Linked DNA regions of Homo sapiens: all the other regions are reported to be linked to region 1. Evidence: microRNA targets listed by miRTarBase, many of them from high-throughput screens and not tested one by one. Region 1 holds a microRNA gene; each other region holds the end of a gene's coding sequence.

The links. Region 1 holds the annotated microRNA hsa-miR-3689a-3p (CUGGGAGGUGUGAUAUCGUGGU, at 2,498-2,519, opposite strand). A microRNA usually pairs through its seed, bases 2 to 8, with sites in the 3' UTR of a target mRNA and lowers its output. Matches are read on the target gene's strand: a 7mer-m8 pairs with bases 2 to 8, a 7mer-A1 pairs with bases 2 to 7 and ends in A, and an 8mer does both.
Region 2: the mRNA of GNG4 is a reported target of hsa-miR-3689a-3p. Seed matches in the 3' UTR shown: 8mer at 1,352-1,359 and 8mer at 2,094-2,101.
Region 3: the mRNA of GNPTG is a reported target of hsa-miR-3689a-3p. The part of its 3' UTR that is shown has no 7-base or 8-base seed match.

The regions. Positions count from the first base shown.
Region 1 is chr9:134,846,829-134,850,521 of GRCh38, forward strand. It overlaps MIR3689C (microRNA 3689c), which reads right to left and starts at 2,541; the gene lies at 2,470-2,541. It overlaps MIR3689A (microRNA 3689a), which reads right to left and starts at 2,736; the gene lies at 2,659-2,736. It overlaps MIR3689D1 (microRNA 3689d-1), which reads right to left and starts at 2,854; the gene lies at 2,781-2,854. It overlaps MIR3689B (microRNA 3689b), which reads right to left and starts at 3,444; the gene lies at 3,297-3,444. It also overlaps MIR3689D2 and LOC101448202.
Region 2 is chr1:235,549,659-235,552,658 of GRCh38, reverse strand. It overlaps GNG4 (G protein subunit gamma 4), which reads left to right. Exons shown (of 4, transcript NM_001098722.2): 4 at 422-3,000. The coding sequence ends at 550. Among named protein-coding and RNA genes, the nearest start is that of B3GALNT2, 47 kb to the right of the region's middle.
Region 3 is chr16:1,362,568-1,365,567 of GRCh38, forward strand. GNPTG (N-acetylglucosamine-1-phosphate transferase subunit gamma) reads left to right here. Exons shown (of 11, transcript NM_032520.5): 9 at 44-175; 10 at 258-339; 11 at 430-1,546. The coding sequence ends at 524. UNKL (unk like zinc finger) reads right to left here. Exons shown (of 15, transcript NM_001372107.1): 15 at 638-3,000. Among named protein-coding and RNA genes, the nearest start is that of GNPTG, 12 kb to the left of the region's middle.

The sequences.
Region 1 (3,693 bases):
TCCATTCATTCATCCATTCATCCATCTATTAATCTATTCATCATTTATCCATCCATCCATCCACACATTCGTTCACCCTTTCATTCATCTGTTCATCCATTCATTCATTCATCCATCCATTCATCCATCTATTCATCATTTATCTGTCCATCCATCTATCCATCCATTCATCTATCCATCCATCCATCTATTCATCATTTATCCATCCATCCATCCATCCATCCATCCATCCATCCATCCACTCTTTCATTCATCCATTCATTCCCCCATTCCTTCAGTGGCAGTTCATTGACCACCTGCTGTGTGCCAGGCGGGAGCAGCAGGGGAGAACCCACCCTCAAGGAGATGCCACTCCAGGGGACACGGGCTGACCAAGACCCACAAGGCAGGGGTAAGGTGTGCCCAGAGGAATGAGACCTGAGGAAATGTAAAGGGGAGGAGACAATGTGCATGTGTGTGGTTGTGTGTGTGTGGGGGGGGTGATGTGCATGTGTGTATGGCACGTGTGTGCATGTGCTATGTGGTGTATTTTGCATGTGCTATTTGTGTTTATGTGAAGTGTATGTGTGTTGTGTGTGTACCTGTGTGTGTGGTGTGCCTGTGTGGTGTGTGTGTGTGCCTGTGGGGAGCTGTGCCTGTGTATGTGGTGTGTGTGCCTGTGTGTGTGGTGTGTGTGGTGTGTGTGTGTGTGGTGTATGCCTGTGTGTGGAGGTGGTGTTTGTGCATGTGCCTGTGTGGTGTGTGTGCTGGCGTGTGTATGGTATATGTGTGCGTGCCTGTGGGGAATGTGCCTGTGTGTGTGGTGTGTGCTGCATGTGTATAGTGTGCATGCCTGTGTGTGTGGTTTGTGCTGTGTCTGTATAGTGTGTGTGTGGGTGTGGTGTGTGTGCCTGTGTGTATGGGGTGTGTAGTGTGTGTGGGGTGGGGATTGAAGTGCTCTCCTGGGTGACCAGGGCCACTGGGAAGGTTCTCTCTGCCTGGAGCCCAGCGGGCAGGAAGGGCTTTGCAGGAGAGGGAACAGCAGGGCAGAGGCCAGAGGGAGTGGGGAGAGGAAGGGGAAGTGGGAGGGGGCTGGTGTGGCCTGAGCAGAGATGGGGAGGGAAGCCACACGGGGCAGTAACCCAGACGCAGGCTGGGGGCGGTGCAGACCCATGAGAGTGGGTCACACTCCGGCTCCAGGTGTTTCAAAGATGGGGTTGATGGGATTTGCTGAGAAGAGGAGGTCGAAAGTGAGACGAGAGAATTCCAGGAGATGCTCAGCCACAGGCATGACCCCCACAGTGCCGCAGGAGCACACACACACGCGCACACACGTTTACCCACTGACAGCTGTGGCCTGGTGAGACCAGGCTGAGGACAGCTGCCTCAGCGACCCAGGCTCAGATGCCACCAGTGCCCCATGTGGCCTCGGGGAATCTGCTGCTCAGAGCTCCTGTCTGCCCATTTGCACATGGGACCCATGAATGGAGGAGGCACTCTGGCCATGTGGCCAGAGGCCCCGCTCCTGTCCTGCAGATGTCTTGGTGACGAAACCCGATCCATGCATGTGGAGGAAGGTGGGGGCATCCCTGGAGCTGGCCTGTGCCAGGCCAAAGTGCTCCTTTGAGCTGCCCAGGGCTGTCCTAGTGAGTGTCCTCAGGCTCTGGCCACCCAGGAGGGCCAGGGGCGTCTGCATTCGGGAGTGGGTTGGAGAAGGGGACGATGGGAGAGCAGGAAGCTTTTGCAACTGCTCCAGGGCCATTGGGAGGGTGCAATTGGCTGACACCCGGAACTTCATTGATGCTTACCCCACGTGCCCTCTGTGTGGGTCCCGCTCCCAGTGCGGACACCACCTCCTAGCTCTCACTAGCTCATGCAGGCCTCTGGGGCCCTCCTGAATCCACACCTCCCAGGGCTGGGTCCTGGTTGTTCCCCAATGGGGAGCTGTGCCTCTCTATCACCAGCAGGCATGTGATCACACCTCCCAGGAAGCACAGGATCACACCTCCCAGGAAGCACGGGATCACACCTCCCAGGAAGCACGGGATCACACCTCCCAGGAAGCACGGGATCACACCTCCCAGGAAGCACGGGATCACACCTCCCAGGGAGCACGGGATCACACCTCCCAGGGAGCACGGGATCACACCTCCCAGGGAGCATGGGATCACACCTCCCAGGGAGCACGGGATCACACCTCCCAGGGAGCACTGGATCACACCTCCCAGGGAGCACCGGATCACACCTCCCAGGAACCACGATATCACACCTCCCAGGAAGCACAGGATCACACCTCCCAGGAAGCACAGGATCACACCTCCCAGGGAGCACCGGATCACACCTCCCAGGGAGCACCAGATCACACCTCCCAGGAACCACGATATCACACCTCCCAGGAAGCACAGGATCACACCTCCCAGGAAGCACAGGATCACACCTCCCAGGAAGCACAGGATCACACCTCCCAGGAAGCACGGGATCACACCTCCCAGGAACCACAATATCACACCTCCCAGGAACCACGATATCACACCTCCCAGGAACCACGATATCACACCTCCCAGGAACCACGATATCACACCTCCCAGGAAGCACGGGATCAGACCTCCTGGGGAGCACGGGATCACACCTCCCAGGAAGCACAGTATCACACCTCCCAGGAAGCACGGGATCACACCTCCCAGGAACCACGATATCACACCTCCCAGGAAGCACAGGATCACACCTCCCAGGAACCATGATATCACACCTCCCAGGGAGCACAGGATCAGACCCCCCAGGGAGCACAGGATCACACCTCTCAGGAAGAACAGGATCACACCTCCCGGGGAAGACGATAGCACACCTCCCAGCGAGTGTGAGATCACACCTCCCAGTGAGCGTGGGATCACACCTCCCAGGAAGCATGGTATCACACCTCCCAGGAAGCACAGGATCACACCTCCCAGGAAGCACGGGATCACACCTCCCAGGAAGCATGGGATCACACCTCCCAGGGAGCACCAGATCACACCTCCCAGGAACCACGATATCACACCTCCCAGGAACCACGATATCACACCTCCCAGGAACCACGATATCACACCTCCCAGGAACCACGATATCACACCTTCCAGGAAGCACAGGATCACACCTCCCAGGAAGCACGGGATCACACCTCCCAGGAACCACGATATCACACCTCCCAGGAACCACGATATCACACCTCCCAGGAAGCACAGGATCAGACCTCACAGGGAGCACGGGATCACACCTCCCAGGGAGCACGGGATCACACCTCCCAGGGAGCACGGGATCACACCTCCCAGGGAGCACGGGATCACACCTCCCAGGGAGCACGGGATCACACCTCCCAGGAACCACAATATCACACCTCCCAGGAAGCACGGGATCACACCTCCCAGGAACCATGATATCACACCTCCCAGGAAGCACAGGATCAGACCCCCCAGGGAGCACAGGATCACACCGCTCAGGAAGAACAGGATCACACCTCCCAGGGAAGACGATAGCACACCTCCCAGCGAGTGTGAGATCACACCTCCCAGTGAGCGTGGGATCACACCTCCCAGGAAGCATGGTATCACACCTCCCAGGAAGCACAGGATCACACCTCCCAGGAAGCATGGGATCACACCTCCCAGGAAGCACAGGATCACACCTCCCAGGAAGCACGGGATCACACCTCCCAGGAACCACGATATCATACCTCCC
Region 2 (3,000 bases), not on the chromosome of region 1:
GCAATAAAACAACTAATAATGATAATAAATATGATCACACTGGCTTGGCCAGGGGCTGCCTTCTGCTTTAGTCTTCCAGAAACGGTTTAGCAAAGTCATTGTGAGACTACTGTCCTGGAACCTCCACTCCTCACCTACTCGAGAATATATCAAGGCTGTCTGGGCCTCCTGCCAGCCCTCAGTCCTGTCTCCATGCTGGCCTGCCATGCGAGGGCAGCCTCCCCTTCTTGGAGGCCCGCTTCGAACCAGTCTCCTAGATCTGCACAAACCCTCCCTCCAGCCTGGGCATGACCATGTTGTAGGCCGTGCACACAATACAGCCTACCCTAGGGCTTGTCCCCTCTGTACGTGGACACCTCTTCCCTGGACTCACTCTGCAAAGGGGCCTTTAACTGAGCACCTGTGCTCTGTGCCCTCACAGGTCTCCCAGGCAGCTGCGGACCTCCTGGCCTACTGTGAAGCTCACGTGCGGGAAGATCCTCTCATCATTCCAGTGCCTGCATCAGAAAACCCCTTTCGCGAGAAGAAGTTCTTTTGTACCATTCTCTAACTCCGTGTGTGATGAAAACGCCTCCTTTTCTGACCTTCAAAGTCCCCTGTAGAGACCATGCATGCTCTAAGCCTTAGGGAGTGAGACCAACACCCATCCCTGCCCAGCCAACAGTGGCCGGGGCTTGTCTTATGTTTCCATCTGTTTTCTTCGTGGCATTCAATTTCATTTTTTTCCTTTTCATTTTCATGTTATTTTCATTATTGGCAAAGAAAATCAAAATGTTTATAGCCAAATAACAAATGTGCCATGTAAAAGTAAGTCTGGACTTAAGAGTTTAAAATTTTTAAACATCAGTTTCCAAGTTTATATCATATTAATACATTTCAGTGGATAATTTATTTTAAAAAAAAAACTATGCCTAAATATCCCTTATTTGCAATATTCAGTATCAAATTAGAGCATTTTGACCAACTGAAACATATAACGTTTTCATCTCCTTTCCTGGAGAAAGCAGCTGCAGAGGTTCTGTATTTCCTGCATTTCCATCATCCTAGTAAAAAGACAACAACCCACAGGATTGGAATGGTTTTCTTTTGTTTTTTTTTTGTTGTTGTTGTTGTTTTGAGATGGAGTCTCGCTCTGTCACCCAGGCTGGAGTGCAATGGCGTGACCTCAGCTCACTGCGACCTCCACCTCCTGGGTTCAAGCGATTCTCCTGCCTCAGCCTCCTGAGTAGCTGGGATCATAGGCACGCGCCACCACACCCAGCTAATTTTTTGTATTTTTAGTAAAGACGGGGTTTCACCATGTTGGTCAGGCTGGTCTCAAACTCCTGACCTCGTGATCCACCCGCCTCGGCCTCCCAAAGCGCTGGGATTACAGGCGTGAGCCACCACACCCGGCCGTGGAATGGTTTTCTTAGCATATCCTCCTGGGGCCGTGGCGCCCCGGCTGTGGGCCGTGGTGGATGTCCCTTGTTTCAGTGGTCCTACAAAGGTAGATGGTGGGCGGACACCGAAGTCAACTTGACTGTAAAAGTACCCCATACCGTTGACGCGCTGTGGCAGACCTGTGGGTGCGGTCTCCCCTCTCCAAATGCCACCTCTTCCTGCTCCCTCCTCTTTTGGCTCCTACTCAGTAGTTCCATTGTGGGCTGCAGTAATATAAGGACCTGTTCTGGACACAGCACTGGGCCCGCTGGGGTTTTAGTAGGGCAGCCCCTTCCCTGCAGGAGTGAGGCATGGTGACAGCAGTCCCCTATGTGCCCCCAAGTCATCTGAGCATTGGTGTGCATTAAGGTACTCAATCTTCCAACAATAAATACCATAAGTGCATGTCTGTTTTATTTTATTTATTTATCTTTTTGAGACAGAGTCTTGCTCTGTCGCCCGGGCTGGAATGCAATGGCACAATCTCAGCTCACCGCAACCTCCACTCGCAGGTTCAAGTGATCCTCATGTCTCAGCCTCCCTAGTAGCTGGGATGACAAGCACACGCCAACATGCCTGGCTCATTTTTGTATTTTTAGTAGAGACGGGGTTTCACCATGTCGGCCAGGCTGGTCTCCAACTACTGGCCTCGAGTGATCTGCCCACCTTGGCCTCCCAAAGTGCTGGGATTGCAGGTGTGAGCCAGTGCACCCGGCCGTATGTCTTAGAGTGAGGGGAAACTGAGGCACAAAGCGTTTATGTAGTTTGCCCAAGGTTACACATGGTAAGCAGAAAAACTGGGATTTGAGGGCAGGCAGCCCGGCCCCAGAGTTCCCTTAGCCCCCTGAACTGTGCTACCTTCCAGGTCTACCTGTTTGCAGGTAGGGAGACCCACAAACTATCATAACTGCACACCGTGAAGCAAACACCTTTGTTGCAGTAACCCGTGGCACACTTCACTTCCCACATTCTCCAGGAGGAAGCCGTATTCTGGTAGTTTAAGGAAGGTGATTCATGGATGCCCCAAGGAAAGGCTAGACATCGATGAATTAGCTCTTGGATTGTCTAAGATCAACCTGAAGGTCCTACCTAAACCAAACTCATATGATCCCGATGAAAGAGGAGAATACACAGTGGGAGCAGAGCTCTTTGTGTAAGTTTGTTCTATTCTGTTTATTTGGAAACTGCCTCTCTCCCTAGTTCTGAAAGAGACTTGCTGTGTGATAGAGAACAGGCCATTTGTGCCTGAAATGTTCTAACCTGCAAATTGGGTTTAATGGTAATTATCCTGCCTTTCTGTCTGGGAGGAAACAGAGATGCTACATAGATGAAAGCTCTGATTATCATTTAAAACAAATAAATGTACTAAATGCCGTGGTATAATATAGGGAAGAATGGATGACTTCAAAGAGACCATGGTTCCGTTGGAGGCATAAAATTGCCTGCAAAGAGGCAAATGTAATTTCCAGACCAATTAATGACTTGCTGCCCTCGTAAATGGATTTAGGACATCTTTGTTCCTTGCTTCTTTTGTTAAAACTCATTCTTAGTTTCATTATCAGCTCACTAATAATACCA
Region 3 (3,000 bases), not on the chromosome of region 1:
CTGGCTGGGAGCTGGGTGCTGCCCCTGCATCCTCCACCTTCAGGGCCATGAGAAGTTGCTGAGGACACTTTTTGAGGATGCTGGCTACTTAAAGACCCCAGAAGAAAATGAACCCACCCAGCTGGAGGGAGGTCCTGACAGCTTGGGGTTTGAGACCCTGGAAAACTGCAGGAAGGTACCGTATTGGGGGGAGGTGGTGGCACGCAGTAGCCCTCCAGCACCTGGGCTTTCCCTTGAACTCTTTTTGTGGTTGGTAGGCTCATAAAGAACTCTCAAAGGAGATCAAAAGGCTGAAAGGTTTGCTCACCCAGCACGGCATCCCCTACACGAGGCCCACAGGTGAGTCACCTGTGGGGAGAGGGCCAGGCTCACCATCACACTCGCCACCTGTGGGTCCAGGTGAGGACTGGCCACCTGGTGTTTTGGCAGAAACTTCCAACTTGGAGCACTTGGGCCACGAGACGCCCAGAGCCAAGTCTCCAGAGCAGCTGCGGGGTGACCCAGGACTGCGTGGGAGTTTGTGACCTTGTGGTGGGAGAGCAGAGGTGGACGCGGCCGAGAGCCCTACAGAGAAGCTGGCTGGTAGGACCCGCAGGGACCAGCTGACCAGGCTTGTGCTCAGAGAAGCAGACAAAACAAAGATTCAAGGTTTTAATTAATTCCCATACTGATAAAAATAACTCCATGAATTCTGTAAACCATTGCATAAATGCTATAGTGTAAAAAAATTTAAACAAGTGTTAACTTTAAACAGTTCGCTACAAGTAAATGATTATAAATACTACCTTCTGGGTTAAGAAAATTCCATTCAAATAACATTCTCATGTAAATACTCAAACATACAGATTGAGGCTTCCAGAAATTAATCCACTTGAGGCGTCCACGCGGAACAAGGTCTGCTGACCACAGTTACACACGTCGTGACACCACTGTATCACGGCGAATGTCGAACACTAGAGTTACAGACGACAGGCAACAAGAACATGCAGAGCCGGCCGCCAGCCAGCTCCTACGCCCCGTGCCCGCCATGGCCACAGGGGGGAGCTGCTGGGCGCGCCTCCACCTCAGCCTCCACGGGGCACCTTCCAGCCACTGCTGTGCCTCAGCCACCTAGGAGCCATCCCTGAGGCCATGGCCACCAAGACAGGTGAGGGAGGCCCCAGGGCACACAGCCCCAGGATCTTGCCCCCATTTCCAACCCTGGCAGCGCTGCCAGCCATTCTTTGGTCTTCCCACTGCTCACCTGTCCTCAGAGCCAGTACTGATCTAGGGGAGCAGGTGCCACCTCCATCTCCCAGCTGTCCCCCCACCCCTGGGGCTCCCCAGCTCTACCACCCCGGAAGCTGAGCCCTGGAGACACCCTGAGGGGCGGGCGCCACCTCCTTCCCAGAAAGAGCAGAGCAGCTGGCAGACTAGAGCTCAGCTGCTCCTGACCACTGACAACCGGGAGATGTCTCGGCAGACACCACTTATCCCAGAAAAGACCAGAGGCTCCAAATGGGAACCAAGTGCATAAATACAAATAAAAACAGAGTTTACACATCGATGACAGTAGCACAAAATATACGTAATTTCTAGATACTGAGCTAATAAATCACTGTAGTTAAAAACAAAATAGATTCACTGAAACCAAGTCGATAGTTACCTTGGAGTAGTGGACTAGCTGCAGAATGTCACGGACCCACTTCCTTTAAAACAACAGAATGTTGCTATCAGTTTGTCTTACGTTAAAACAGTTCTTAAACCACCTACTATATTAAATACATTCTAATTTGGTCACTGATGATAAAGATTTTTACCTAGACGTTTTGCACTTAAAAAATGCTATTAAAAGTCTTTGGCAAAGCCACGGTCGGGGAGAAACACGTCGGTGCCGCTTCCCACTCGTGTGCCCTCACCACCCACGTGGCCCGCGGAGAGCCAGGTCGCCGTAAACCACAGATGCCTGTTCCTGCTCAACTCCTAGGGACAGTCCCAGCCCTGAGCAGAAGGGTCAGGTCATCGCGGGGATGCGTTCTCAGTCACGTTTCTGCTGCGGCCGAAACCACACTGTCGCTCCAGGGGCAGACGGGACAGGGGACCACAGCAGAGCCGGGACCTGGGGGGGGTCGCTTCCCCCGTGTGCTCCAGGCCACTGAGAGGCTGTGGCCGGGTCCTCTCCTGTGACCTCACTGGCCACATGGATGAGCTCCGATGATAACTGGCAGCGCGGGTCAGGTGACTGCCACATACACCCGGCACCCCGGACCCTGGCGCACACACGGCCCGAGCATCTCCCACACGAGCAGGACCAGGGTGGTCACGGGTGCTGGGGAGGCAACCACTCTCCCAGTTCACTGCCTGACCCCTGCCAGGACGCCCAGCGACATCTCCAAGGAGCTACAAAGCACCATTGCCTAGGACAGCTCTGAGTAATCAGAAAACAGCTTTTTTTTTTTTTTTTTGAGCCAGAGTCTCGCTCTGTCACCCGGGCTGGAGTGCGGTGGCGCGATCTCGGCTCACTGCAACCTCTGCCTCCCAGGTTCAAGCGATTCTCCTGCCTCAGCCTCCCGAGTAGCTGGGACTACAGGTGCCCGCTCTCACGCCAGGCCAATTTTTGTATTTTTACTAAGACGGGGTTGCACCATGTTGGCCAGGCTGGTCTTGAACTCCTGACCTTAGGTGATCCACCCGCCTCCCAAAGTGCTGGGATCACAGGCATGAGCCACCGCACCCAGCCAGAAGACAGCTGCTTAAAAAAGTAATTCTAAAAGCTCTGACGTCGGATCCCCTCTGCTGCGTTTTTTGTTAGTATCAAACTGTCTTTCAGAGGGTTAAGGGAGAAAACAAAACCCATGATGCTCCTTCACTTGCTCTCCGAGGCGCAGGCGCACAGAAACAGCGGCCACGGACCACAGAAATGCAGGACGGAGCTCTCCTGCTCCCACGCCACGAGGCTGGAACATCAGCCCCAGTGCCTGGTGCACACACAGGCTCAGGAAAACTAGCTCCTTCCATCAA